Homo sapiens: one gene and its partners. The gene in region 3 interacts genetically with the main gene of each other region. Each region holds a gene or a part of one and is shown on either strand. Other genes may lie near its edges.

Evidence for each region.
Region 1: of NOL3 (region 3) and TNFRSF25, changing one suppresses a phenotype caused by changing the other (phenotypic suppression), as found in Homo sapiens cells (one study listed by BioGRID).
Region 2: of NOL3 (region 3) and CFLAR, changing one suppresses a phenotype caused by changing the other (phenotypic suppression), as found in Homo sapiens cells (one study listed by BioGRID).
Region 4: of NOL3 (region 3) and CASP8, changing one suppresses a phenotype caused by changing the other (phenotypic suppression), as found in Homo sapiens cells (one study listed by BioGRID).

The regions. Positions count from the first base shown.
Region 1 is NC_000001.11:6,458,128-6,465,913, forward strand, and holds the end of TNFRSF25 (tumor necrosis factor receptor superfamily member 25 isoform 2 precursor), read right to left. Parts: intron 7,434-7,786; coding exon 7,313-7,433; intron 7,096-7,312; coding exon 6,961-7,095; intron 6,593-6,960; coding exon 6,425-6,592; intron 6,327-6,424; coding exon 6,248-6,326; coding exon of another isoform or gene 6,244-6,247; exon of another isoform or gene 5,984-6,243; intron 5,021-5,983; coding exon of another isoform or gene 5,001-5,020; coding exon 4,945-5,000; coding exon of another isoform or gene 4,938-4,944; intron 4,844-4,937; coding exon 4,736-4,843; intron 4,540-4,735; coding exon 4,502-4,539; intron 4,048-4,501; coding exon 3,867-4,047; intron 3,636-3,866; coding exon 3,307-3,635; 3' UTR 3,059-3,306; coding exon of another isoform or gene 3,053-3,058; 3' UTR 2,659-3,052; downstream 1-2,658. UniProt on the Homo sapiens protein: Receptor for TNFSF12/APO3L/TWEAK. Interacts directly with the adapter TRADD. Mediates activation of NF-kappa-B and induces apoptosis. May play a role in regulating lymphocyte homeostasis.
Region 2 is NC_000002.12:201,163,433-201,171,830, reverse strand, and holds part of CFLAR (CASP8 and FADD-like apoptosis regulator), read right to left. Parts: exon of another isoform or gene 7,997-8,398; coding exon 7,858-7,996; 3' UTR 1-7,857. UniProt on the Homo sapiens protein: Apoptosis regulator protein which may function as a crucial link between cell survival and cell death pathways in mammalian cells. Acts as an inhibitor of TNFRSF6 mediated apoptosis.
Region 3 is NC_000016.10:67,167,963-67,173,590, reverse strand, and holds the start of NOL3 (nucleolar protein 3), read right to left. Parts: upstream 3,054-5,628; 5' UTR 3,017-3,053; intron 2,440-3,016; exon of another isoform or gene 1-2,439. Other genes in the region: HSF4 (heat shock factor protein 4), read right to left, coding at 3,806-3,960, 4,243-4,312, 4,490-4,555, 4,655-4,760.
Region 4 is NC_000002.12:201,270,504-201,278,901, reverse strand, and holds part of CASP8 (caspase-8 isoform 2 precursor), read right to left. Parts: intron 7,387-8,398; coding exon 7,281-7,386; intron 6,265-7,280; coding exon 6,126-6,264; intron 6,005-6,125; coding exon 5,960-6,004; intron 5,800-5,959; coding exon of another isoform or gene 5,702-5,799; intron 4,014-5,701; coding exon 3,949-4,013; intron 3,380-3,948; exon of another isoform or gene 3,266-3,379; intron 2,076-3,265; coding exon 1,934-2,075; exon of another isoform or gene 1,360-1,933; intron 1-1,359. UniProt on the Homo sapiens protein: Thiol protease that plays a key role in programmed cell death by acting as a molecular switch for apoptosis, necroptosis and pyroptosis, and is required to prevent tissue damage during embryonic development and adulthood.

The DNA of each region.
Region 1 (7,786 bases), on a different chromosome or scaffold from region 3:
CCTGCCTCAGCCTCCCAAGTAGCTGGGATTACAAGCGTGTGCCACCACACCCAGCTAATTTTGTATTTTTAGTAGAGATGGGGTTTCACCATGTTGGCCAAGCTGGTCTCAAACTCCTGACCTGAAGCGATCCACCCGCCTCGGCCTCCCAAAGTGCTGGGATTATAGGCATGAGCCACCAAGTCTGGCTTTTTTCTTTTTTTTTGAGACAGAGTTTTGCTCTTGTTGTCCAGGCTGGAGTACAGTGGCACAATCTTGGCTCACTGCAACCTCTACCTCCTGGGTTCAAGTGATTCTCCTGCCTCAGCCTCCCTGGTAGTTGGGATTACAGGCGCCCGCCACCACGCCCGGCTAATTTTTGTATTTTTAGTAGAGGCCGGGTTTTGCCATGTTGGTCAGGCTGGTCTCGAACTCCTGACCTCAGGTGATCCACCCGCCTCAGCCTCCCAAAGTGCTGGGATCACAGGCGTAAGCCTTCGCACCAGGCCTGCAAAAAAAATTTTTTTTAATTAGCTGCAGGGGGCTGGGCGCAGTGGCTCATACCTGTAATCCCAGCACTTTGGGAGGCTGAAGCGGGTGGATCACCTGAGGTCAGGAGTTCAAGACCAGCCTGGCCAACATGGTGAAACCCTGTCTCTACTAAAAATATAAAAATTAGGTGGTCGTGATGGCGCATGCCTGTAATCCCAGCTACTCGGGAGGCTGAGGCAGCAGAATCACTTGAATCTGGAAGGCGGAGGTTGCAGTGAGCCAGGATCACGCCGTTTTGTACTCTAGCCTGGGCAACAGAGTGAGACTCCATTTCAAAAAAAAAAAAAAATTAGCTGGGCGGGCTGGGCTCGGTGGCTCACGCCTGTAATCCCAGCACTTTGGGAGGCGGAGGCAGAATGATCACCTGAGGTCAGGAGTTCAAGACCAGCCTGACCAACATGGTGAAACCCCGTCTCTACTAAAAATACAAAAATTAGCTGGGCATGGTGGCACGCTCCTGTAATCCCAGCTACTCAGAAGGCTGAGGCAGGAAAATCACTTGAAACTGGGAGGTGGAGGTTGCAGTGAGCCGAGATCGTGCCACTGCACTCCAGCCTGGGTGACAGAGCGAGACTCTGTCTCAATTAAAAAAAAAAAAAATAGCTGGGCGTAGTGGCACACATCTGTGGTTCCAGCTACTTGGGAGGCTGAGGTGGGAGGATTACGTGAGCCCAGGAGGTCGAGGCTGCAGTGAGCCATGATCTCACCACTGCGCTCCACCCTGGCAACAGAGCGAGACCCTGACTCAAATAATAATAAAACTTAGTCTTTGAAATATCATGCACATTTTACACCTGCAATCCATCACAATTTAGACCAGCCACATTTCAAATGTTCAGCAGCCACATGTGCTTAGTGACTACTCTGTCAACAGGCAGATCTACCCTCTATGTTCTAATAACTTGTCTCTAATTCTCAGTCCCTCTCTCAATTATATGGTCTCTCTGCTCCCCAGCAGCCCCACCCCAGTCCTCAATACTTCATATTGACAGCTCCCCCACAACTCAAGTCCTGGTCCCAGTAATCTTGCTGCTGCACCCAGCAATACCACCTCCTCACATGGTGCCACACAGTGACCCAGCACCTCTGTTTCCAGTAAAACCCCAGCCCACAATAATCCAGCCTTAACCTCCCACTCACCCAGCTCCCCTGTGCTCCAGTAACCCCATTCTGCCCCCAATCTAGCCCCTCTGTCTTCAGCAACCGAGCCCCAGCCCTCAGTAACCCACCCCTTGCATGGGTGACCTGGCCTCTGCCTGGTGCCTGGCCCCACCCTTTCTGCCAGCCTGGGTATCTGGCCCCAGACTTCACCGGGTCTGCCCCCCTCCCCACTGCCTCAGGAAAGAGGAGGAGCGACAGAAGCAGGAGGAGCTGCGGCGGGAGAAGGAACAGTCAGAGAAGCTGCGGACGCTGGGCTACGATGAGAGCAAGCTGGCGCCCTGGCAGCGACAGGTCATCCTGAAGAAGGGGGACATCGCTAAGTACTAGAGGCCGCAGACTCCTGTCCGCAGCCTCGCAGCTCCGTGGGGCCCTCCGCCCCAGCCCCAGCCAGCCAGGCCCTGGTGGAAAGGCTGGGAGCCGCACAGCCCTCCCCTCCTGCGCTGGAAACCCTCCCTGACCCCCACCCTGGCCCCCCGTATCCCCAGCCCTTGGCAACACTGGAGTGCACACGCCGCCACGGTTGCCCAGAAAAAGTGCCCAAGCTGCTGACGCAAACAACAACAAATGCTGCTTATTTGCATGCCGACTTACATATATTTGCATGTTCGTTGACTATCAAAGAGTGCAGAGCTCTCCCCAGCCCCGTGGGTGGTGACTTTGTTTTCCTGCGGGGCTCAGCCCCCTCCAGGATGCAGCCCCCTCCCCCGCACCCCGGAACCGGCGTCGCTGGCGCATCCTGGGTGGAGGCAGGCCCCGAGCTCGGGGAAGGGGTTTTCCCTTCCTCTCTGACCCAGATCTGCGCGCGGCCTAGCCCGGGCCTCATTTCTTATCCCCGCCAAGGGTTTCCTCTCAGTCATTTGTTTACCAGAAACATGAAAACTGCCTGTCTGGCCGGGCCGCACTTGTGGCCCCCGGGACCCCACCTCTGGCCCCACCTCCCTCAAGTCTGCGCCCCGTCCCCAGCCAGACCCACTCGCTGCCGGGACCCTTTCACTGCCCCGGTGGAGTGAATAGAGGATGAGGGGCCCTGACCCTGTGTCTCCAACTGCTGCACCCCATCCCGACCCTGTCTCCGCCACCTCGCAGCCCCATTAAAGCGCTCTCATCTGGGCTCCGGTTCACTCACTCGCTGTGGCCGCGACTTGCTCTCTCCTTCTCGGGGTAATTGAGCCAGAGTGGACTCGGGAGGGGCAGGCTTGGGAGCTAAGGCCACACTGGACTCCACCATGGGTGCCAGATCCCGGGGTGACAAGATTCCCGTCCCCTTCGAATCCCTCGAGAAAAGTCCAGTCCACTTAACACCCCAGCCCCGCAGAAACGCCAAGAAGCCGTTTTTGTTTTGTTTTGTTTTCTTTCACAGATTTAATACCGCGATCTCAGCCAAACTCCGGCCGAGAAGTTGAGAAATGTCTTCACCCCCTCTCGACATTCGTTCGTGCTTCTTCGCCTTGGCTGGAGCGATAGGGGCGAGCAGGGGTGGGGCCGGCTGGTGCTGCTACGCAGGGCCGTGCCAGCGGCTTAATAAGTGACATAAAATGTCTACACGCATAAGTAACCGTACTTAGGGCTTCTGCAAGGGCCACCAGAGCGCCTAGGTGGCAAGTGGGCGCCGTGTCACGGGCCGCGCTGCAGGCGGCTGCGCAAGTCTTCCACGCAGCCGTCCAGCCCCATGCGCTCCAGGGCCGCGTAAACGGCTCCGAGGCCCGCGGGCTGCTGCTGGCGCCAGCGCTTGAGCATCTCGTACTGCTGGTCTCGGAAGCGGCCGATCTCCACCTCCACGGCTTCGATCTCTGCCTCGCGCAGCCCCAGCGTGCGCACGAACTCCTTCCAGCGCCGCGCTGGGACCGCGTCCATCACGTCGTAGAGCTGCGGGCCCGGCTGCAGCATCATGGCTGGCGAGCCGGCTGGGGACTCTGGCGAGAGTGTGGGCGCAGCAGCGGGGCCTGGGGCAGGGCCAGAGAGAGCCAATTGGGGTACGTGGGCCGCGGTCGGGAGGCAGAGTCAGGGGCGTTCGTGCGGGTACCCCAGGGCTGAAGCCCGCTGGATCCGGTGGGTCAGGGCATAGGGCGGACTCCGTCAGTTAGGGGGCAGAAAGGGAACACGTTGTGAAACCACAACTTCCCACCGCAGACAGGAGAATGGGGTCAAGGCCTCAGGCCACTGATGTCCCTTACCAAGAGCTCTGCTGGGCAACTGGTCCCAGGACCATGTCACCTGCGGGCAGAGCGCCTCCTGGGTCTCGGGGTAGCCAGGGGTCCAGCTGTTACCCACCAACTGGACGGTGCAGATCTTCTCACTGCTGTCAGGAGGTGCTAGAAGGGTGTGGGCGCTGTCCAAGGGTGACAGATGGGTGGCCTGGAAGCCAAGAGGGGCCCCAGGTCAGCCCTGCTTGCCAAGTAAGGCCCCTTACCCGCAGTGCCTCTCCAGGAGGGGACAGTCCCTGGTTCAGTCAGCAGACACCCCCGCAATGACACCTCCCACAGTTGGCCCTGCTCTCACTGTAGCCCAGCAGAACTCTTGCTTCTGCCTTGAGTCCCCTGCCCCCGCCTCCTTCCTCTTGTCCCCCAGCACCATGGGGCTCTCCTTCCATTGAACTGTTAGCTCCTGTGTACGAATCTGAACTCCAGCTGACTGAGCACCCCTTGAGGGCAGGCACTGTGCTGGTCTCATCCACTGATGACTCTGCTCCCAACACCTCTGTCCACTAGGGCTACCCGGTGCTGGCCGCGTGCCAAGCTCCAGGGATCATAGTAAGGCTTGATCTTCCAGCTCCAGAAGGCAGCCCAGAATCACACAGTGAGGTTCTTACCGGTGGTGGGGTCAGAGCCTCCATCCCAGCTTCATCTGCTGACAGACACAGAGAGATTGCGGTCAGCCACCAGGCAAGCCTCCTGGACCTGGGTGCTGGTACAGCTCCTCTAGGGTTCCTCTGCACCCCACACTCCCTGCCTCAGTTTCCCCTTCTGTATCAGGGTTGAGTAGACTCTGGGCTACCCATCCTGACCCCAGGCTTCTGGGTGCGTGTGTGGGTGTGTGTACTTACCAGTAACCAGGGGCTTGTGAGGCCAGCAGTGGCGGTATGTGTAGGTCAGGGTGGCCCCAAGCAGGAGGGGGACCACAAGGCCAGCCAGGAGCACCTGGACCCAGAACACTGAAAGCAGCTGGTGGGTGTTGGGTGGTTGCCCCCCTCCTCACCCGCCTCCCCTCGGTCCATCCCAGTTCTCCCACTCGCATTCCCAGCACACCACCTACTCTGCCTCCAGCCACAGACAGCGGCACAGCGCTCTGGACAGCTCCCCAGGGTGCTCCTGCAAGGGACGGGGGTGGCCTGAGGGATGAGGGGGTGCATGCCAGGAGGGGCTCCCTAAGACTGCCCAGCATCTGCTCCATCCTAGAGACCCTTCCCTCCCCAGGCCTCTCACTCTACCCAAGAATGTTCCTGTCATTGTGTCCCTGGTAACAACCACAGACACTATTCACTGAGCTTCTTCTAGACTACATGAAGAGTCACTAGAATGTCAACCCCAAAAGGACAGGGATTTTGCCTATTTTGTCCCCTGTTGCATCCCCAGCACCTAGAACAGTGTGTAGAACATAGCAGATATTCAATAAAGACTTGAATGGAGGCCGGGCGCGGTGGCTCATGCCTGTAATCCCAGCACTTTGGGAGGCCAAGGCGGGTGGATCACGAGGTCAGGTGATCAAGACCATCTTGGCTAACACGGTGAAACCCCGTCTCTACTAAAAATACAAAAAATTAGCCGGGGGTGGTGGTGGGCTCCTGTAGTCCCAGCTACTTGGGAGGCTGAGGCAGGAGAATCACTTGAACCCAGGCAGCAGAGGTTGTAGTGAGCCAAGATCGTGCCACTGCACTCCAGCCTGGGTGACAGAGCAAGTCTCCATCTCAAAAAAAAAAAAAAAAAAAAAAAAAAAAGACTTGAATAGCTACAGAAAGTCCCTTACCTCTGATCAAAGGCCTGTGAATTAGCTGCTAACATCCCATGTTGAGAAAGGGACACCACACATCAGAGACGCGAATTCTCTGCACTTGCCCAAGATCCCCTAGAGAACTAGCAGCACAGTCCTGACTCTCAGCCCTTTGTATTTATTTATTTAATAGATTTAATATTTAATATTTAATAGATTTAATATTTATTTATTTATTTAATAGGTCTCGCTCTGTTGCCCAGGCTGAAGTGCAGTGGCACGATCATAGCTCACTGCAGCCTCAACCTCCTTCAGCCCAAGTTTTAAAGCTATATCAATGTGACTCTCTGTGTAAGTGACAAATCATCTGTAATATCTGGCTAGGATCGCTGGGGGGAATGCTGGCTGAAAGTGAAGGCAAATACCCTTATGTATCTGGCTAAGGCGGATCCAGATTGCTCTTTTGCCATCTAAGTTTGCCTGAAGTGGGGCCCACCCATCACAGGGCCAAGGCTCCCTCCTCCCTATCCCCTCTTCCTATTCCTGAACCAGCAGCACCTGCCCCACCCCAGGCCCCTGCTCTGCTCCCAGCCGCCCTTCCCTCCATCCCACGACAGCTAGGAATTACGTGGGGCAGGACACGCAGCCATCGCCATGTTCATAGAAGCCAGGCAGGCAGGTCCCACAGTCAGTATCTCTGCGGGAACCTGCAATCCAGGAGAGGCATGCGTCACCATGGGACAGGAGTGGGTCAGGCAGGGAGAAGGGGGTCTGGGAGTAGAGAGCCCTGGGTGGGGGTACTCACAGAGTAGCCGTGTGTGGCGGTGCAGGGCCCCGCAGTCTAGGCATGGTTGGCAGTAGAAGGGTGAACTGCTGACACATTGGCTGACCTGGCACTCCACAAACCAGCCTGGCTTACAGCCACAGCGGGTGTCGGCCACTGCTGAACAGTTCTCCAGCGCCACCTGGGAGGCTGGTGGGGGTGCAGGGAGATGGGGAGTGGAGAGTTAGTCAGGGCCAAAGGCTCCCATGGAGAGGCAGAGGCATTATCCCAAGATAATGGAGACAGAAATAGGCGAAAGACAGACAGGTACAGGGCTACCCTAAAAAAGAGAGAAGCTCAGAGATTAAGGCCGACCAGAGGCCAAGGCACATGGAGAGATGGGAAGGTCACCAGGAAGAGAGAAGGGGCAAGGGCACCCTGAAGGAGGATCAGGGTGGAGGGTTCTGGCAAGGGTGGGTGCAGGACCCTCACACCCCAAGTTTGGGCCCGAGCCAGCCACTTCCTTCAGAAAGGCCTGTCCTTAGGAACTCCCTGCCAAGCACTGAGAAGCCCCTCACCCTGCTCATCACAGGCCTGGCAGCGGGCACATTCAGAATTATGGTGGTTCTCCCAGGCCAAGAAGGTGTCTTGGGGACACACAAGGCAGGTGGAGTTGCCGCAGGGCTCCGTGCAAGGGGCCTTCAGGTAGTGCCCTGTGGAACCAGGCAGGGGTCAGGCAGGCAGAGGGGCTGCCCAGCAACCCCCGACCTGCTTCCCACCCTGCCCTCCCTCCCTCTTTCTCTCCAGCTCCCTACTTCTCTGTCAGCCTACCCCTACCTCCCCTGCCAGCCTCCTCTTACCTCCCGGGCCTGCCCGCCACCTCTCCAGCCCTGCCTGCCCCATGCCTCTCCCACCCCTGTGGCCACTTACCCGCTGGGCAGCCTCTGCAACAAAACAGACCAATCTTCTTGTGGAAGTCACCGGCACAGTCACACCTGGGGCTACGAGTGCCGCCCTGGGCCCGGGCCCCCAGCAGCACCAGGAGGAGCGCCTGGGGGACAGGTGCTGCTGACTCTCAGCGCAGCTGCCCACGTGGGGCCTCTCCCTGCTGCGTCTCCTCCATTTCAGAGGCCCCAGCATTTGCCCACAGAGCAGCCCACTTCCCAGGCCCCGGGCAGAAGGGGTGCCCATGGGTGGAGAGGAAACTAACTTCCTTCCCCCCGCGCACACACCAGGCTTCGGAGGGGGCGCTTACCAGCCCCTCACAAGTTTCCCCTCCACCAGAGCAGGAATCCAGCAGCGCCCCCACCCCCACCCATGCTTTCTGTTGGGGGAGGGACACTGATAATGCTCTGCCTGGGGCCCCCAGACCCTCCTGGGAGGGGTTTCCTCTCAGTGGAAGGG
Region 2 (8,398 bases), on a different chromosome or scaffold from region 3:
TTCAATTTGGCTGAGCTAACAGTGTTTGGAGTGGGATCTTGAAGAAGCTGAAAATGAAGATACCAACTAGACAGTCAGAGAAAGACTTCCAATGTTTGACTGAACTGCAATTTTATTGTGTATGCATTGAAGAATCTTTTTTTTTTTTTTTGTATTCTCTAAAGATTTTTAAAATATTTTAAGTTCTGGATACAAGTGCAGGATGTGCGGGTTTGTTACATAGGTAAACGTGTCCCATGGTGGTTTGCTGCACCTATCAACCTATCACCTAGGTATTAAGCCCCACATGCATTAGCTAGTTATCCTGATGCTCTCCCCGCTACGGCCCCTGCATCAGGCCCCAGTGTGTGTTGATCTCATCCCTGTGTCCGTGTGTTCTCATTGTTCAGCTTCCGCTTACAAGTGAGAACATGTGGTGTTTGGTTTCCTGCTCCTCTGTTAGTTTGCTGAGGATAATGGCTTCCAGCTTCATCCATGTCCCTGCAAAGGACATGATCTCATTCCTTTTTTAAAAAAAAAAACAAAATTATTTCCATAGGTGTTTGGGGAACAGGTGGTATCTGGTTACATGCGTAAGTAATTAAGTGGTTACTTGTGAGATTCTGGTGCACCCATCACCTGAGCAGTATACACTGAACCCAATTTGTATTCTTTTATCCTTCACCCCCCTCCCACCCTTTCCCCTAAGTCCCCAAAGTCCATTGTATCCTTCTTATGCCTTTGCATCCTCATAGCTTATCTCCCACTTATGAGTGAGAACATACAATGTTTGGTTTTCCATTCCTCAGTTACTTCCTTTAGAGTAATAGTCTCCAGGTTGCTGTGAATGTCATTAATTCATTCCTTTTTATGGCTGAGTAGTGTTTAGGTGAGGTTATTTGTAAGTAATTAATATTGAGTAAATAAGATTCATCCATAGTGGCAAAGCCACATAACTTCTAAGTATCTTAAACTATATCTAAATGGTACCAAAACATGCAGTCAATTCTAAAAGCTCAGCTAATGATATTTCATAATATAGGAAAATATTCACAACATATTTTTGTGTAAAAAAAAGCAGACTTCAAAATGGAATATGCATTATGATTCCAATCATGTAAAAGCTATACATGAACACATACAAAGATTAACAGATATAAACAAATGGAAGAATGAATGGAGAGATAGATGATAGACAGATTGAGTGGTGGTGGAGAATAACAGATTTAAAAAGAAATTGTGCCTTTCTATATTTTCAAAACCATTTAAATAAGTATTACCTTTGGAGTTAGAAAATGATATGTATTTTAAATCCATAATTCAACTACTTATCTATATGATGTCAAACTGGATTAGGCTGAATTATCAGCAAGTGAATAAAACAGTTCCTTCATCCATGGAGAAACATCCATTTATGACATTCTTGGAATTCCTCTTGTTAGAATTCTTTATGAATTTAAAATAGAAACATGGCCAGACTCAAGATTTCAATACAAACATTACTTTTTCACGTTCAGTAATAACCAATTAAAAGAATTAATGAAAAATCTGATTCACTGTATCACCAAAAGCTGTAATGGCTGCACTGCACAGTATTCCATGGTGTATATGTACCACATTTTCTTTATCCAGTCTATCTTTGATGGGCATTTGCTATTGTGTCTTTGCTATTGTGAAGAGTGCTGCAATGAACAAAAATGTGCATGTATCTTTATAATAAAATGGTTTATATTCCTTTGGGTATATACCCAGTAATGGGATTGCTGGGACAAATAGTATTTCTAGTTCTAGATCTTTGAGGAATAGCCACACACACTTCCACAACGGTTGAACTAATTTACATTCCCACCAACAATGTAAAAGTGTTCCTACTTCTCCACAGCCTCGCCAGCATCTGTTGTTTTTTGACTTTTTAATAATCACCATTCTGACCGGCATGAGATGGTATCTCATTGTGGTTCTCCTTTGCATTTCTCTAATGATCAGTAAGGTTGAGCTTTTTTTTATATGTTTGTTGGCCACATAAATGTCTTCTTTTGAGAAGTGTCTGTTCATGTCCTTTGTCCACTTTTTGATGGGGTTGTTTTTTTCCTTGTAAATTTGTTTTAAGTTCCTTGTAGGTTCTGGATATTAGACCTTTGTCAGATGGATAGATTGCAAAAATGTTCTCCCATTCTGTAGGTTGCCTGTTCACTCTAATGATAGTTTCTTTTGCTGTGCAGGAGCTCTTTAGTTTAATTAGATCCCATTTGTAATTTTTGCTTTTGTTGCAATTGCTTTTGATGTTTTTGTCATGAAACCTTTGCTTGTGCCTATGTCTTGAATGGTATTAAATAGATTTTCTTCTAGGGTTTTTATAGTTTTAGGTTTTACATTAAGTCTTTAATCTTGAGTTAATTTTTGTATAAGGTGTAAGGAAGGGGTCAGTTTCAATTTTCTGCATATGGCTAGCCAGTTTTCCCAGCACCATTTATTAAATAGGGAATCTTTTCCCCATTGCTTGTTTTTGTCAGGTTTGTCGATGATCAGATGGCTGTAGATGTGTGGTCTTCTTTCTCTGGTCTCTATTCTGTTCCATTGGTCTATGTGTCTGTTTTTGTACCAGTACCATGCCATTTTGGCTACTGTAGCCTTGCAGTATACTTTGAAGTTGGGTAGTGTGATGCTTCCAGCTTTGTTCTTTTTGCTTATTGTTGTCTTGGTTATACGGGCTCTTTTTTGGTTCCATTTGAATTTTAAAGTAGTTTTTTTCTAATTCTGTGAAGAATGTCAATAGTAGTTTAATGGGAATAGCAATGAACCTATAAATTACTTTGGGTAGTATGGCCATTTTCATGATATTGATTCTTCCTATCCACGAGAATGGAATGTTTTTTCATTTGTGTCCTCTCTTATTTCCTTGAGCAGTGGTTTGTAGTTCTCCTTGAAGAGATCCTTCACATCTTATTAGCTGTATTCCTAGGTATTTTATTCTCTTTCTAGCAACTGTGAATGGGAGTTCATTCATGATTTGGCTCTCTGCTTGTGTATTGTTGGTGTATAGAATGCTTGTGATTTCTGCACATTGATTTTGTATCCTGAGACTTTGCTGAAGTTGCTTATCAGCTTAAGGAACTTTTGGGTGGAGATAATGGGGTTTTCTAGATATAGTATCATGTCATCTGCAAACACAGTTTTACTTCCTCTTTTCCTATTTGAATACCCCTTATTTGTTTCTCTTGCCTGATTTTCTTGGCCAGAACTTCCAATACTATGTTAAATAGGAGTGGTGAGACGGCATCCCTGTCTTGTGCCAGTTTTCAAGGGGAATGCTTCCAGCTTTTGCCCATTCAGTATGATAATGGCTGTGGGTTTGTCATAAATGGTTATTATTTTGAGATATTTTCCATCAATACCTAGTTTATTGAGAGTTTTTAACATGAAGCAACGTTGAATTTTATTGAAGGCCTTTTCTGTATCTATTGAGATAATCATGTGGTTTTTGTCTTTAGTTCTGTTTATGTGATGAATTATGTTTCTTGATTTGCGTATGTTGAACCAGCCTTGCATCCCAGGGATGAAGCCAACATTCCAAACATTTTATTTATTATTTATTTATTTATTTATTTTTGAGACAGAGTCTCGCACTGTCGCCCAGGCTGGAGTGCAGTGGCAAGATCTCAGCTCGCTGCAAGCTCCACCTCCCAGGTTCATGCCGTTCTCTTGCCTCGGCCTCCCAAATAGCAGGGACTACAGGCGACCGCCACAACGCCTGGCTAATTTTTTGTATTTTTAGTAGAGACGGGGTTTTACATGTTAGCCAGGATGGTCTTGATCTCCTGACCTCGTGATCCGCCCGCCTTGGCCTCCCAAAGGGCTGGGATTATAGGCGTGAGCCACCGCACCCGGCCTCCAAACATTTTAATCTCATAACAATGCATCACTTGGGTTAACTAGGTTGAGATAAATATAAACTGTCAATTTTTTTTCCCCTCACATAAAAGTCCAGAGGTAGGTAATTAGGGCTGACACAGTGATTCCAGTGATTCTGCTCCTTCGTGCCCTCATCCAACAAGGCTTCTTGCTGCTCACTACCCAGCTACCCCTACGTGTGGCCCGTATCTTCATGGTTCAAGATGGCAGCTAGAGCTGCTAGGTAGTTAAGATCTCTCTCACACACTTTCCTTCTGTCATAATTAACACAGGGTTTTAGCTCATGAGGCCAAGCATACACATTACTTCCCACTGGCACCCCTATGTAATATTAAATGCAAAGATACCCTCAGGAGTCCTGTGCTCAAAACAAGTACAAAATAACTTTTTGTTGTTGTTTGTGGTGCTGGTGGTTTTATTTATTTATTTTTTCTGAAACAGGGTCTCACTCTGTCTCCCATGCTGAAGTGCAGTGGTGTGATCACAGCTCATCACAACCTTGACCTCTCTGGGCTCAGGGGATCCACTCACTTCAGCCTCCCAAGTAGCTGGGACTACAGGAACACGCCACCACGCTCAGCTAAATTTTGTCTTTTTTTGTAGAGATGGAGTCTTGCTATGTTGCCCAGGCTGGTCTCAAACTCCTGGGCTCAAGTGATCAGTCCACCTCAGCCTCCCAAAGTACTCAGATTATAGGTATGAGCCACCATGGCATCAAAATAACTTGGAAAGTAGGAATAATTGCTTGTTGTTCCTGAAAACTGTCTCTTCGACACTTTTCAGACTCTGTTACATGATCATGACAAAATATACACAAATAGACATACAGATACACATCAGTTAAAACCTCAAGAAATAGAAAAATAAATAAATCATAAAATATTTAAAAAGTGGTATTCTGACACACTGCCCAGAGGTACCCCTGTTCAGCAATTTTAAAAAATTTTAAAAATAGCCCTCTCCCCCTCCCTCTCTTCTCCCTCTCCCCACGGTCTCCCTCTGATGCCGAGCCGAAGCTGGACTGTACTGCTGCCATCTCGGCTCACTGCAGCCTCCCTGCCTGATTCTCCCGCCTCGGCCTGCCGCGTGCCTGCCATTGCGGGCGCCGCCACGCCTGACTGGTTTTCGTATTTTTTTGGTGGAGACAGGGTTTCACTGTGTTGGCCGGGCTGGTCTCCAGCTCCTGACTGCGAGTGATCTGCCAGCCTCGGCCTCCCGAGGTGCCGGGATTGCGGGCAGAGTCTCGTCCACTCAGTGCTCAATGTTGCCCAGGCTGGAGTGCAGTGGTGTGATCTCAGCTGGCTACGGCCTCCGCCTCCCAGCCGCCTGCCTTGGCCCCCCAGGGTGCCGAGATTACAGCTTCTGCCCGGCCGCCACCCCGTCTGGGATGAAGTGAGGAGCGTCTCTGCCCGGCCGCCCATCGTCTGAGATGTGGGGAGCGCCTCTGCCCCGCCCCCCCGTCTGGGATGTGAGGAGCTTCTCTGCCCGGCCACCCCGTCTGAGAAGTGAGGAGCCCCTCCGCCCGCAGCTGCCCCGTCTGAGAAGTGAGGAGCCCCTCCGCCCGACAGCCACCCTGTCTGGGAAGTGAGGAGCGTCTCCGCCCAGCAGCCACCCCGTCTGAGAAGTGAGGAGCCCCTCCGCCTGGCAGCCGCCCCGTCCGGGAGGGAGGCGTGGGGGTCAGCCCCCGCCCGGCCAGCCGCCCCGTCGGGGAGGGAGGTGGGGGGTCAGCCCCCGCCCGGCCAGCTATCCCGTCCGGGAGGGAGGTGGGGGGCGCGTCCGCCTGGCCGCCCCATCTGGGAAGTGAGGAGCCCCTCTGCCCAGCCGCCACCCCGTCTGGGAGGTGTACCCAACAGCTCATTGAGAACAGGCCATGATGACGATGGCGGTTTTGTGGAATAGAAAAGGGGGAAAGGTGGGGAAAAGATAGAGAAATCAGATTGTTGCTGTGTCTGTGTAGAAAGAAGTAGACATGGGAGACTTCATTTTGTTCTGTACTAAGAAAAATTCTTCTGCCTTAGGATGCTGTTGATCTATGACCTTACCCCCAACCCTGTGCTCTCTGAAACATGTGCTGTGTCCACTCAGGGTTAAATGGATTAAGGGCAGTGCAAGATGTGCTTTGTTAAACAGATGCTTGAAGGCAGCATGCTCCTTAAGAGTCATCACCACTCCCTAATCTCAAGTACCCAGGGACACAAACACTGCGGAAGGCCGCAGGGTCCTCTGCCTAGGAAAACCAGAGACCTTTGTTCACTTGTTTATCTGCTGACCTTCCCTCCACTATTGTCCTGTGACCCTGCCAAATCACCCTCTGTGAGAAACACCCAAGAATGATCAATTAAAAAAAAAAAATTTAAAAATAATAATAGGCCAGGTGCAGTGGCTCACACCTGTAATCCCAGCACTTTGGGAGGCCGAGGCTGGTGAATCACCTGAGGTCAGGAGTTCAAGACCACGCTGGCCAACATGGTGGAAACCCTGTCTCCACTAAAAATACAAAAATTAGCCGGGTGTGGTGGCAGGAGCCTGTAATCCCAGCTACTCGGGAGGCTGAGGCAGGAGAATCGCTTGAACCCAGAAGGCAGAGGTTGCAATGAGCCAAGATGATGCCACTGCACTCCAGCCTGGGCAGCAGAATGAAACTCTGTCTCAATAATAATAATAATAATAATAATAATAATAATAATAATAATAATAAGCAACTCTAATGATATTTCAAACAATGGTCCCCTTTTAGGTCACACTATCAAATCAGAGAAAGATATACTTGACTAGCTGTAAAATGCAATTTGAGGTCTAGGTGAATGAACAAGTAACCTCTAAATCATAAGGCTATTGTTACAAACTGAATGTTTGTATTCCCCCCAGAATTCAAAGGGGAGACAGTATCCCCAAAGTGACAGTATCAGAAGGTGGGGCCTTTGGGAGGTAATTAGGTGATGAGGGTAGAGCCCTCATGAATGGAATTTGTGCCCTTAAAGATATACTTGAGAGTTTGCATCCTCTTTTTCTGCCATGTGAGAACATCAAAAGACTGACATCTGGTAAGATCTGGAAGCATGCCTTACCAGACACCAGATATGCTACCACTTAGATGTTGGATTTCCCAGCCTCCGGAACTGTGAGAAATAACTGCTGTTTAAGTCACCTGGTCTATGGTAATTTGGTATAGTTGCCCAAATGGACTGTGATGGTTAATACTGAGTATCAACTTGATTGAATAGAAGGATGCAAAGTGTTCCCGGGTACATCTGTGAGGGTGCTGCCAAAGGAGATTTAACATTTGAGTCAGTGGACTGGGAAAGGCAGACCATCCTCAATCTGGGTGGGCACCATCTAATCAGCTGCCAGCACTGCCAGAATAAAAGCAGGCAAAACATGGAAAGACTAGACTGGTGTAGTCTTCTGGCCTCCATCTTTCTCTCATGCTGAATGCTTCCTGCCCTCAAACATTGGACTCCAAGTTCTTCAGCTTTGGGACTTGAATTGGCTTCCTTGCTTGCAGATGACCTATTGTGGGACCTAACCCTGTGATCATGTGAGTCAATACTCCTTAATAAACTCCCCTTTTTATATACATGTATCCTATTAGTTCTGTCCCTCTAGAGAAACATGACTAATACATTGAGTAAGATAGTTCCTGTCCTTTTTTTTTTTTTTTAAAGAGATGGGATCTTGCTATATTGCCCAGGTTGGTATGCAGTGGCTATTCGTAGGCACAATCACAGCATGCTATGACCCTGAACTCCTGGGTTCAAAAGATCCTCCCACCTCAGCCTCCCAAGTAACTGGGAATACAGGTACCCACACCCACACCCAGCTAATTTTTGTATTTTTACTAGGGACAGCGTTTACCATGTTGGCCAGGCTGGTCTCGAACTCCTGACCTGAAGTGATCTGCCCTCCTTGGCCTCCCAAAGTGCTGGGATTACAGGTGTGAGCCACTACGCCCAGCCTTTTGGTTTCTTATGTGTAGGAGAGGATAAGTTTCTTTCTCAGAGTGTGCTGCAGCCAGACATAATATTTCTCCTTGGCAGAAACTCTGCTGTTCCAATCATACATGTAGCCATTGAGTTCAATGTGAAGATCCAGGAGTGGGCGTTTTCTGGAGAAAACAAGAAAGGCAAAATTTAATGCCATGCAAATATCAAAGAGAAGACTGTCATTAGGGCGAAATGAGCCAACAGATGTGAAAGTTCTTTGAAACTGTTCCTTTCTGAAGGCACCACAAGCTGCTTAGCAAATGATCCAAACTAACTTGCAATACTCTGGCCTGATGGCCACCATCCCCTCCCTCAAGGGGCTGCTGAGTTTCACTCTGGGAACATACCAGCCAGATGATAACCCACGTGGATCATCTATGCAAATGGGGATGGGCTCAAAAGGCCAGTAATACCACCGGCCCATGGAGTATCTATCTTGGAAGGCTGAGTGGCTCCTGCTCTAACCCCCGCTTCCTGCTGGGCCACCACTAAGGAGGCCAGGTAAAGAAGGCCATGAGATTTAT
Region 3 (5,628 bases):
AGAGCTCCCTGCTTCCATACTCTATCCTCCAGTCCCCTCTGAACCCAGAGCACAAAGTGCTGAGAGCCTCCCTGCCCCTCTCCCCTTACCTTGACCCTGATATCCAACTTTCCAGGACAAGCCCCGCCTCTACACCCTCCCACCAACACCACCACCATAGTGCAACCCCAATGTAGTCTCCTGGCCCTTCCTGGTCCCCTGATTCCTGAGCAGAGATACCAGAATCTTCTTCAGGCCTAGCTCTGACCAAGATCTCTTGACATCACCTGAGACCCACCTGTCTCCCTACTGAAGCCCTAACTCCTAATGTGACTGTCTCTCTGCTGACCCACCTGGCTCCCTGCTGACCTGGGAATTACCTACAGACATTTGTTGTTTGATCTTGAAGTACCCAAGGCCTAGCTCATACAGGATACCGACAAATACTTGCCGAACTTGGACTGATTTTCCTCCATGGATCGCACTATTTTGAGAGACTTTTTTTTTTTTTTTTTTGAGATGGAGTCTCGCTGTTGCCCAAGCTGGAGTGCAGTGGCGCAATCTTGGCTCACTGCAACCTCCGCCTCCCAGGCTCAAGTGATTCTCGTGCCCAGCCTTTTTTTTTTTTTTTTTTTTTAGAGGTGGGGTCTTGCTATATATATTTTTTGTATTTATTTATTTTAGTGGAGACGGGGTTTCACTATGTTGGCCAGGCTGGTCTTGAACTCCTGACCTCGTGATCCACCTGCCTTGGCCTCCCAAAGTGCTGGGATTACAGGCGTGAGCCACCGCGCCTGTCCTGGTCTTGCTATATTGATCAGGCTGGTCTCGAACTGCTGGCCTCAAGCAATCCTCCCATCTCAGCCTTCCAAAGTGCTGGGATTACCAGCACTTTGTGAACCACCATGTGAACCACCATGCCTGGCTCTTGAGAGACTATCTCTACCAACAGCGGCTATTAGGGAGAGTCAATCTGCTTTATCCATTTTTTTTTTTTTTTTTTGACAGAGTCTCACTCTGTTGCCCAGGCTGGAGTGCAGTGGCACATTCTCTCATCACTGCAACCTCTGCCTCCTGAGTTCAAGCGATTCTTCTGCCTCAGCCTCCCGAGTAGCTGAGATTACAGGTGCCCGCACCACGCTCAGCTAATTTTTTGTGTTTTTAGTTGAGACGGGGTTTCACTATGTTGGCTAGGCTGGTCTCGAACTCCTGACCTCGTGATCCACCCACCTTGGCCTCCCAAAGTGTTGGGATTACAGGCATGAGCCACCGCACCCAGCTGCTTTGTCCATTTATTGTCAACCAAGGATTATGGCCCATTCCTGTGAGTGGCCTGACCCAGCCAGCAAGACCCCCGGCATTAGGAGGCAAAGACATCAGGCCTTGAACCATGCCCTCAGCCCACCCCCACCCTGATAATAACTTCTTCTCCTCCCCGCCTTGGCTTTGTTCACACGGCATCCTCCCATCTCTTCTTCCCTTTGCTGTCCCTCCTCTGCCTCCTTCTCTGGCTCTAGGAGGCTCGGCCTTCTCTGGGAGAGAGGATTTAGTCCTAGCCGCCATCCTGCCTCCCAGGTCTTTCTCAGTACCCTCTGGTGTCACACTATACCTCCCCCGTCACTTCACACCCTGGCTTCCTCCCATTGAAGCCCTTCCCCACCAGGCCGAGACCAGGACTACCCCCTGCCCCTCCATCTCCCTTTATGTCCCGTATGTGATGAATCTTGCTTCTCCACTTCTCAGTGAGTCTCCATCAGCTCCTGCCTTGCCACCCCACCATCGTCACCTCATGTCCTGTAACAGTCCCTCTGAGCCCCTCTCACTCCCATTCTGCCAGGCCCGATAGCACAGTGACTTTGACAACCCTCTGGGCTAGGATTGCTGTTCCCATTTTACAGATGAGGAGACAGGCTCAGAGATTCAGTGGTAAAACTGGAATCTTACTTGCTCCAGCCTGAACTATGAGGAACTGAACTATATTTTCCTGTCTAGCAGAATTCCATCCTAAATACCTATCTACCTCCCCCCCACACCCCACTGCCCATCAGAGACAACCCAAAATATCTGGTCTGGCTACTCTAGCCTCCTCCCACCACCCTGGACAGCCAGGCCCTTCCCAGCTTCCCTCCACCAGCCAGGGATCGGAGAACTCACTATGCCTCTGGCACCTCGGAGCCTTTGCTGATGCTGATCGCTAAGACTGGAATCCTTTTCTCCTCCCTCCGCTCCGTGGACCTATCCATCGTCCAGGACTCAAATGTTCCCTTGTCTACACCAATGCCTAAGTGTCCCAAGGGCTGGTGGTTCCTTCTTCTGTGTACCGTGAACAACACATGCCCTCACTAGTGCATTAACTGACATCATTGCACTGTGTACACGCAGACTCTCCGCTTTCTTCAACTGAGTTTTCCAGAGTGTCCCTCCAATCGGTGGGCAAAGGAAGGGAGAGGGGGACAGCACCTACTCGGGACAGACACAGGGAGGGTGCAGATTGGATTGGCCCCTCCTTCTCTCCAACCTAAGTTGTTTTCATGTTAGCCGCCTCCTCCTATGACCCCAAGTCCTGCCCTTTATCCTGTCTGGGGGTAGAGACTCCAGCTGGTCTGGGCCCTCCCTTTGAGGCTCACACAGCTCTCAATACCGAAGTTATTTAGCGGCCAGTCCTTCGAGGGTGACAGGTCCGATTCTTCCCAGAGAGCCAGGTGGCGGGGCACGGAGCTGGGTCCCAGCCCCCAACCCCACCTCGCTGCGCGGGCTCTTTGGCCAGGAAGCCAGGGTCTTGGGACAGTGAAGAGCCTTTGCGCATGTGCGACTGCACGGATTTTCCCCCCCCGCCCCTTACCTCCCTCCACCCAGTCCCAGAGCTTGAGAGTCCTGCGGCAGGGCGGGGCCCACAGTCCTACCCACCCCGCCCCCCCGACCCCCGAGCGCCGCAGCGGGTGGTGGGGCGCTGATTCTGCCCAATCTCGGTTTCCCTTCCCTCCCACAGCCGGGAGTGGGGCTCCCGGTCTGGCCCGTTTTGGGCGTCCCCACTCACGGGTCAAGCCTCGGCGGGGCAGGAGATGACGGTGCAGAAAGGGCCGGGCAGGGTGGGGGTGGGTGCAGCAGCTGCGGCGGGGGCGGGGCGGCCAGGGCTGCTGGGAATAGGGAGGGTGAGGGTTCTTCCCCGGGCACTAGGAGCCACACCGCGGAGGCCGCGCGCTGGCTGGGGACGTGCATGTAGTCAGCTTTCCCTCCCCACCCGGGGCGCACCAGGAGATGAGGCCAGGAGGGGGCAGTTCGGCCCGCGGCCCCACACGTCCAGCGCCCACTCAGGGCCTGCCAATTTCCAGGTGCTTTCCATCTATCTTGTCATCGACCCCTCTTCTCTGCCTGTCACAGAGGAAGTTCAGAGAAGGATACCAACTCACCAGGATCACAGAACGCATGCATTGCAGAGCTGAGCGCGACCCAGAAGCCCCCGCTTCCCAGAGATTGCAGCGGCCCCGCGCCAGCCCTGGACCCGGGCCTAAGCAAGGGAGCTAGGCACCGGATCCCCAAGCACCTCCACCCTCCTGGGGTTCCTCTATTAAAAACCTAGTATCTGGACGCTTCTACAAATGCAAAATCACCCCCCACCCATAACTCCTGTGCTCCCTGGTCGATAGAGAAAAGAGACCAGAAACAGAAAAAAAAAAAACGGAGTTTATGTGCAGGGATAGTCGGGGTAGTGGAGAGAGGCCATTTAGTAGTGGGGGCTTCGCTCACCCCCGATAGGGGGCGCCAGGAAGCCAAGAAGGATGTGCAGCGGCGGACTGGTTCCAAGCCCCTTCAGAGGCGCGGGGTCTTAGGGGGAGGGACTGGCTTCCGGGCCCAAGTAGGAGGCAGTCCGGCTCTCAGGAGTGCTATAAATGGTTAAAGCCCCAGGCAGGCCCAGGGCTGGGCCTCCCAAGGCCGCCTGGACATCCAGCAGGAGTGGGGCCCCGAGCGTGGGGTCCTTCCCTAGGAGAAGTGGGACTGCGCTCACCAGGGGAAATGTTCCCCCTCCTTTCTTCAGGGAAGGAGAGCCCTGCCCGCCTGCCTTCTGCTCAGTTAGGATAAAACATCCATTCTTAACCTCCCCACTCTCGCCCAATGGTGAGGGCATGGGTGGCTCAAGGAACGCTCTGCAGTGCAGCCTGAACTCAGGATTTCCCTGCAAATTGCAGATTGCCCCCTCACTCAATCAAGGTAGCTCAGCCCAATCACGGCGTCCTCCCAGGTAGGAGTCATCACAACCATTACCTGGGCTTGGAGAATTTAACCCCTTGACCGCCAGCTCAGGCTCACCCCGCTCTGGAACCAAGGGCTGCATCTGCGTGAGAACCGCAGGGAGCAGCTGGGGAGGGGACCTAGCAGCTGAGGGGGACAGCTGGGAAATCACTGTGACAATTCTTCTAGAGACACGGCTTTGGCTCACAGAGAACAGCTATGGACCAGAGGGCTTGACTCAGCCACCCCTGGCCTCTGCCCTCCCCGACCCACTTCTTACCAAGGACAGCTCCATGTCCAAGTCCATCAGGGTCCATTCTCGCCCTTGGAGACTGGGGCCCAGCACCTGAGGAGAGCTCTGGGTCAGTGGTGCCCTCCCCAGGCTCCACAGAGAGCTAGACCCCACCAGGTCTCATGCCCCTGTTTCAGCAGAAGGGGTACTCACATCTAGAGGCCCTGCAGGTTCCACACTTTCTTGAGGGGGCTGAAGCAGCATCGGAGGCAGCAGACTCTCTGGGCTCCTGTCCCCGCTTTCCAGGCCCAGAGGCCCCCTGTGCAGACAGAACTGCTTTTGGCCTGCAGTGTCCACCCCGCATTAAGTTCCCAAGGAACCCAGATGCATCAAGATTTTAATCCCCCAATCTTTAGAAAATGATAGGAGAGGATCCCCATCCTCTCTCCACCCCCAACCTCCCCACTCCTGCCATAAATGGCACAGAGAAAGTGCCTCTGCTTCCTACCTGGGACCTGAAGTTTGGGTGGTGGAGCTGGGGCTTTGGGACCCTTCCCCTCCCTATGCAAGTATCAATATCCATGCTTCTTTCTCTTCTTTCTTTATTTCTTTCTTTCTTCCTTTCTTTTTTCTTTCTCTCTCTCTCTCTCTTTCCTTCTTTCTTTCTTTTCTTTTTTTTGGAGACAGTTTCACTATGTCACCCACTATGTCACTATGGCACTGTCTTGGCTAACTGCAGCCTCCACCTCCCAAGTTCAAGCGACTGTCCTGCCTCAGCCTCCTGAGTAGCTGGGACTACAGGCAAACGCCACCACACCCAGCTAATTTTTGTATTTTTAGCAGAGGCGGGGGGTTTCACCATGTTGGCCAGGCTGGTGTTGAACTCCTGACCTCAAGTGATCTGCCCGCCTCAGCCTCCCAAAGTGCTGGGATTACATGCATGAGCCACCTCATAGCCACCAATGCTTCTTAAACTATTGTGTACTTTGCAGTCACCCCAGGGAACTCATTTCATATGTAGGTTCCTAAGCCCTTCCGCAGATGCTGAGTGCCCTGACTGGGAGGCTCTGCTTTCCACAGAACTCTGATGCTGGGGCCAAGAAATCAGGTGAGTATCATGGAGTCAAATGGCTAGGAAGCTTTGTGGGCTGGTAAGGGCTGTTCTATCACAGGGCTCATGGGCCAGC
Region 4 (8,398 bases), on a different chromosome or scaffold from region 3:
CCTTCTCCAGCATTTTGTCCCTGTCAGCACATCAGAGCTAAACATAAGTCATCAGTCAAAAGGCAGTCTCAGCCAGGTGCAGTGGCTCACACCTGTAATCCCAGCACTTTGGTAGGCCGAGGCGAGTGGATCACCTGAGGTCAGGAGTTCAAGAACAGCCTGACCAACATGGTGAAACCCCATCTCTACTAAATACAATTAACTGGGTATGGTGGCACATGCCTGTAATCCCAGCTACTTGGGAGGCTGAGGCAGGAGAATCACTTGAACCTGGGAGGCAGAGGTTGCGGTGAGCCAAGATCATGTTATTGCACTGCAGCCTGGGCAACAGAGTGAGACTCTGCCTCAAAAAAAAAAAAAAGAAAAAATACAGTCTAGCATTAGGAATAGAAAAAAATAACTGAAATGCAATAGGCCCTTGTTGATTTGGAAGCACTTTGGCAAGACTAATACAGTGTGTTGGTTCTGTGAAAAAAATTCTGATCCTTTGGAAATGTGGAATGTTGATTAAAAAAATGACTGTAAAGCAAGTCTGAAGGCACTGAAGCAGGACAGAAGGGAGTCTCTCAGGAGAAATGACTTCTGCAGCTGGGTCTCCTACTTTTACTCATTCAGCATAAAACATAAGAACAGGAACAGAAAAAGCAGGACACACAGACTCGAATGCCTACCAGAGACTAGTCAATCATGGGCCAGTTATAAGAAAATGAGCTGCCAGAAATAGAAGCAAATGTTATTTTAATAGAAATGTTTTAATTTTAAAAGAATACAAATCAAGGGTCCAAAATATTTTTTTCAATACCAAGCGCATAGTGACGAATGATGTAATCAATGGACTTAATCTCTGTGCCTTTTTAAAGGCTTAGATTTGCTTAAATAAACAAATCAAATGTTAGCAGGGACCAGGTACAGGTGGCTGACACCTGTAATTCCAGCACTTTGGGAGGCCGAGGCAGGCGGATCACTTGAGGTCAGGAGTTCAAGACCAGCCTGGCCAATATGGCAAAACCCCATCTCTACTAAAAATACAAAAATTAGCCATGTGTGGTGGTGTGTGCCTGTAGTCCCAGCTACTTGGGAGGCTGAGGCAGGAGAATCACTTGAACCAGGGAGGTGGAGGCTGCAGTGAGCTGAGATCACACCACTGCACTCCAGCCTGGGCAACAGAGTGAGACTTTGTCTCAAAAAAAAAAAAAAAATGTTAATAGGGGCCATTACAGACTCCTGATGATTATAATCAGTCTACATTAATTTTCTAAACTTACCTCCATTTGCAAAACAAATCAATAATTGATGTTATGCCTGATAAACACTATTTCCAAAAGTTCTTTGATCAAATCAAAATTATTAATCTCTCAATGGTGATGGATGATTTTTATTTTTTGTTGTTGTAGTCACTTTTTATATTCACATACTACAAATTGTTTTTTCATTTAACTTGTAAGTTCTTGATCTTAGCTTAATTTGGCTGAGCAAAAGAATTGCTAACCAGTTTAATATTTAATACTTGAAAATGCTATTTCTGTTAAGAACCCACAATTTCTGCTGCACTTAACAGCCCAACCTGTAAAAATGCAGCCTCTATAAGAACTTTGATACCACAGCAATTTCATCGCCTAATACATTCCACAGAAGCGCTATGCATTTAGCTGAATTCAAAACAAAGCTTATTACTGCTTTTCATTATGTCTTTTAGTAAGATTTGATATTTTATATTTATACATACATTACTTTTATTTAAAAAATTAATTTTTAAAAAAAGCAGGAAACTGATAAATGTATAAGAATGTTCTTTACCTCCACAGGGAAATATGTTTAAATCCATTTTCTTGAAACATGGCCCTTTTGGTATAGCTTTTGTTCTCTCCCTTTTGATTTAAAAAAAAATAGGCATAAGAAATATTTTACTTTTCTCTTTTGGGTTCTACTGTACCTGCATCCAAGTGTGTTCCATTCCTGTCCCTAATGCTGTGAAGTTTGGGCACTTTCTCCCGTGCTTTTGCAAAATTGTGATTGTTGATGATCAGACAGTATCCCCGAGGTTTGCTTTTCATTTGGTAAACTTTGTCCAAAGTCTGGAAAACAAAAACCCAACCCAGGAGCTGACTCTGTGGGTCAAACACTAGAGATGTAAACAAACAACTCCCTAGTAAGAGGACTTGCTTTCCATTGCACCACCCCAACTCGGGGTCGTTTCCTCGAAGAACTAGTTTCTACCTATTTCCTTCACACAGGACCTCTCAGACTTCTGCCCCATCGTTGTAAAGTCAGTGTCCCAATACCTGGGCCTCCTGAGCACTTTGCACATATATTAATATTGTTGTCATCACATTGTATTATTGTTTGTTCTCATTTCTGCTTCCCATACTATACAGAAGACTCCTTGAGGTTCATAACATCTGTGCCAGGGACTACGGTGTATTAACTTGTGAGAGCTCAATCAAGAGTCACTGAATGAATGAATGTCTTTGGCTGCCCCCACGCCATGACTTGTGATTCTCTTGGCTGTCTACTGAACTCATCTGTGCTTCGTGGCTAACAGCTGAGGGTCTCCCATTCATGCATTGCACAGTGTGGTCCCAGGATTTTAAAGGTGATGGCTTAACCCAGCTCTCAGGACCACGGTGGCTGCTGGGAAGAGATGGGCTGGTCAGGGAGGTCCTGGCTACACTGTAGGTTATGGTATCCAAACTGTAGTACCTGATAGTACTGGCCAGGGATGGCGCTGTGTCCTATTCATTCTCCTAGGGCTGTTTCAGTACCGAGAAACTCAGCATTTAGTTGGAGGTCTGCGTAGCCCCTTGAGGTGGAGAAAAGGACTCCAGGCTAGGAAGCCCAATTCCTGCCTCTACTTCACCTTATGACTTTGGGCAAATAACCTGTTATCTTAATATGTTAACTCTAAGATATTAAATATTTGATTAAGTTTGTACCAAGTATGTTAAGTTTTTATTATTTACAGTTGTGTTCTAAGTATTTATTAAGCATATTAAGTGTATTTACTGAGATACTAAGACACTAAGATTTGGCCAGGCACGGTGGCTAGTACCTATAATCCCAGACTTTGGGAGGCCAAGGCAGGAGGATTGCTTGAGGCCAGGAGTTCGAGACCTGGCTTGGCAACGTAGCAAGACCCCTGTCTCAATAAAACATTAAAAAAGGAAAAAGATACTAAGATTTACTAAGATATTAAGACAGTGTTTTTAGCTCTTCAGTGGGGACAATGCTTGTAGCATGCTATACTGTTTAGAAAGTACCACATTACTTGGGTTAATCCTTGACTTTCAGATGAAAGAGGTCTGGTAATTTTCTCAGGAGCCCACACTAGTGAATAATCTCTCTCAAGCCTACTTCAGATATTCAGGATTTCCTCTTCTTCCTACCATGAGGAGGAGCAGATCGTCTAATAAGTCAGGATGTATTTGGTGGATTGTTGATTACATAAAGAGAAGTTATTATGCCTAAAAATTACATGTTTCTGCTGGTTCACTGAGACAAAAACACAGAGATGGCTAGATTGTGAGAGTTTGCTGCTTACACCTCATCACCAAGGAGAAGCATTTTTGAAACATTAAGCTAAAGGAAAAGGCTTGGCTTTTTCCATTCCTGCTAGACTCTTTCTCCAAACCACTCCCCCATCCAGGCTGGCACGGCTGCTAGAAGATTTGGTAGGAGGCTTATTACCCCCTCCACCCTCCAACTATTCCAGTATCTTCATCTCGGGTCTTAAAATAAAATTCAAATGTATAGAAAACTGAAGGAGTCACATTTTAAAAATTAAGTCACATTTTTAACTTTTTTTGTGTGAATTTTTTCTACAGTTCTCAAAATTTTCAGTAAGTTTCTGCCCCTTGTCAGTTTATCTGGCAGCAAAAAAAAAAAAAAGCTAACAAATTAAATAACTAGAATCTGTAATGTAAAAAAAAGGATTTGGAGGTTTCCGTCTACCTGTGATTCACTATCCTGTTCTCTTGGAGAGTCCGAGATTGTCATTACCCCACACAACTCCTCCCCTGCAAACAACGAAGAGACACATCTAGAATGAGACATGGCAGGAAAGGTACACTGGTAATGAAATATGTAGCACATAGGACAACATAAGGTCTTTTTTAAGATGAAAATTCAAGCTGGGAACAGGGGCTCACGCCGGTAATCCCAGCACTTTGGGAGGCCAAGATGGGCAGATCACTTGAGGTCAGGAGTTCAAGACCAGCCTGGCCAACATGGTGAAACCCTGTCTCTACTAAAAGTACAAAAAAATTAGCCGGGCGTGGTGGTAGCCACCTGTAGTCCCAGCTACTCAGGAGGCTGAGGCAGGAGAATCACTTGAACTTGGGAGGTAGTGGTTGCAGTGAGCTGAGATCGCACTACTGCACTCCAGCCTGGGCAACAGAGTGAGACTCTGTCTCAAATAAATAAATGAAATAAAATGAAAATTCACAGACTGCCATGAATATAATCTCCTTTCAAGCCAGAGAGATTCTGCAAGCAGGGCAATTAACATGCTTCTGGAAACACAAGATCAAGTTGTCTCCTCGCCAAAGAGAAAAACATACCAAGAAATGCCATAATTTTATATTGCTCCACATGGCCAGGTTGAATTTTTGTGGTATTTGTGAGATACTCATTAATAAAGCCACTAGCTCAGGATGAATTAATGATTTAGTACTTTACTCCTTAAAGTATTCTTAAGGCCTTAGGCTCAGCAGGCAGAGGGGAAAGGGAAGGACAGCCTGCATAGACATTAATCTTTAAAATACATTTGAGTGATCCAAAATGTATTTTACACACACACACCACAAAGAGCCAACGTAAAAATACAATAAAAATATTCATAATATGAATGGAGTGATGGTGTTCTTGGACTTGTAAAAATTTCTCTGAATTTAAAATAATCTTCAATTAGTGTATATAATTTTTCTAATCAGAAAGAATACTTTATTAATTGCCTATAGTCCCAGCACTTTGGGAGGCCCAGGTAGGTGGATGGCTTGAGCTCAGGAGTTCAAGATCAGCCTGGGCAACATAGCGAAACCCCATCTCTACAAGACATACAAAAATTAGCCGGGCATGGTGGCTTGTGCCTGTGGTCCCAGCTACTCAGGGGGTTGAGGCAAGAGGATCATCTGAGTCCAGGAGGTCGAGGCTGTTGTGAGCCAAGATTGCATCACTGCATTCTAGCCTGGGGGACAAAGTGAGACACTGTCTCAAAAAAAAAAAAAGACTATTTGATTAATCAAAATTTTGAAGGAGATCGTTGAGAGCTCTCTCTCTTGGTTCAGCCTCGCTTATCAGGTAGAAAAAGTGAAAGGAAGTTGAAAGGAGTGACTTAGTGTAGAAGGTGTTGAAAGAGAAAGTGACTTAACCAAGAAAATTATGAAACATAATTTAAATCCAGCTACTCAGTGCATAACATGAGCAGCACGTCAAGGAGAAAAAAAAAGCCACATAGAAAAAATGATGTTAAATTACTTACTACTGACTAACTCTGCACCTATTTCAAACTTGCCAGCTTGGGCTACAGGTCTTAGGAGAGCAGGTGCGGCCGGGCGCAGTGGCTCATGCCTGTAATCCCAGCACTTTGGGAGGCCAAGGCAGGCAGACCACCTGAGGTCAGGAGTTTGAGACTAGCCAGGCCAATATAGTAAAACCCCATCTCTAATAAAAATACAAAATTAGCTAGGCGTGGTGGTGCACGCACCTGTAATCCCAGCTTCTCAGGAGGCTGAGGCAGGAGAATTGCTTGAACCTGGGAGGCGGAGATTGCAGTGAGCCGAGATGGTGCCACTGCTCTCCAGCCTGGGAAACAAAGTAAAACTGTCTCACAAAAAAAAAAAAAAAAAGAAAAAGTAGAGCAGGCACGTTAAGATGTGCATGTGGTAGAAGGCTGTGGGGAGGACACATGCAGGTACCAGATAGTAAATTAACTAAATCTTGAAAATGTATCTCCAAGCATTACCATTTGAAAATTCATCAGGACTTCCTTCAAGGCTGCTGCTTCTCTCTGAATTAAAAGGGGAAACCCCAAACAATATTTGATTAGAAACAACTGTGATATGGAGCGATTTGTCAGTTTCAATTTTAGAGTAGGTTTTGCCGATTCCCGGCTGTCAGGTTGTTTCTACCTTTGCTGAATTCTTCATAGTCGTTGATTATCTTCAGCAGGCTCTTGTTGATTTGGGCACAGACTCTTTTCAGGATGTCCAACTTTCCTTCTCCCAGGATGACCCTCTTCTCCATCTCTATGAAAATATCCAGCAGGTTCTAAGAGGAGGAGAAATAAAGTTGGGAATCTGGATTGAGCCCTACTGGTTTTTAGATTAGATTTTTTTTTTTAATTTCCAATTTCTCCAACCAAGGACCTGCCCTTGCTTCCCAAGTTTCTGACAGTTTCTGCTGGTCTCTCACAGCCAGCAGGCTACTAGGGAAGCGATTCCATGTTTTCTGGCCCAGAAAGACAGAAGTGAGAGGATAAAGGAGAAGCCATGTCAGATGTCACCCAGTCCCCAGGCCCTGTGCTCAAATCTCCTGCGAATGCATTACTTGGGGACTGTGAAACAACCTGAGACAGCAGCCCGGTCATCATGGTGACACCCTGGGGAACAGCCTCACCCCCAGCATTGCCTCTCCAGACCTGAGTACATACAGACACACAGACACACACACACAGACACCACATGCACATACACACACAGATACAACACACACAGAGTATACTCAGTGATACACACACAGGGGCATAAATACAATACACACTACACAACACACAGACACACATACCACACAGAGAACACACACACAGAGATACACAGACACACACACCACTTATACAGAGACACACAGAGATACACATATCACACACAAATACAGACACACACTATACACAGAGAAAGGCACACACAGACACGGAAATACACACACAACACACAGACACAATATACACACAGAGTTTCAGGTCCCAGGTTGTTTCGGGGACTGCAGAAGTGGAGGAAATATCTCAGACCCACCGCAGTCTTTCCCAGCTCTGCCGGGTCTGGGCTGCATCTGCACAGCCTCCTTCTCCCGGCCTCTGACTCTGCCTTGCTCCCAATAATTAACATGAGCAGCACTTCGGTCTAAAGGAATCACATCTGTAACACTCGTGCTGACAACTTTCTTCTTCTAGTTAAAAAGTGAGAATCCAGGTTGCTTTTACCAAAATACCCCTCTCTTTGGTCTCAGAAATGCCCCCTGGCTAACCAAGTCTCAGGACTAAATCTCAGTAAGATACCAGGTCTTACCATGTCATCATCCAGTTTGCATTTGGAGATTTCCTCTTGCAAAAGAAACTTAAAAGACCTCAATTCTGATCTGCTCACTTCTTCTGAAATCTGATAGAGCATGACCCTGTGGTGGGAAATGGAGACACTTTAGAAATCTTTTCCCAAATAATTTCCCATTTGATATATGGAGTCACAGTGGGCTTGATTCCAAAGGCCTCCCTTCAACATAAAGCCAGTTAATGGCATGGTTTATGAGTTGAGCCCTTGGAAAGAGGCTGGTGTGGTGACACAGAAGTCTACTGGCTCCTCCCCGACTTTCCCACCCTTAACAATTTAAAGTTCTATCAACTTTTCTTTCAGTTTATTTCAGTTGAGTAAATCTTGTTTTCCTTTTTTTTTTTCTGTAAAATGGAGATTTTGTTGCAATAGCAAAATGCTTTGCCTTTTGGAAATTATGCTTTTCAAAATGCACATTGGCTCATGACTTCCCTAATCAAAACTGGTCAGTATTCTCCCAGTCATTATCTTCAGTAAGACGGCCAAGCATTCGGTTCTGGAATACAAAGTCTCCGAATACATCCCTATCACAGACCAGACCGCAAACACGAAAGGACCTGAAGCCAAACACACCCAGCTGCCCTGCCCTCACCCCTTTCTGTGGTGCCGCTACACCCCATCCCCTTGTCTATCTGCAGAGGCCCATCCATGAACAATCAGCTCAAGCATTGCCTGAGCATCCTCAAAGCTGCATTCACTCCACTATGACTTAGTAACCCCAAAACGATAACACACATAATTGTCTGTTGGCCTGGTGCAGTGGTTCATGCCTCTAATTCCAGCGCATTAGGAGGCCAAGGCAGAAGGAGGATCACTTGAGCCCAGGGGTTTGAGACCAGCCTGGGCAACATAGCAAGACCCCATCTCTACCAAAAACATTTAAAAATTAGCCGGGTGTGGTGGCATGCACCTGTGGTCCCAGCTACTCCAGAAGCTGAGGTGAGAGGATCACTTGAGCCCAGAAGGTTGAGGCTGCAGTGAGCTGTGATCATGCCACCACACTAAAAATAAAAACAGAAAATAATTGTCTGTTTAGAAACTGTTCAAGTCCCCTAGTGGCCAGGTCCGTACCCTTTTTA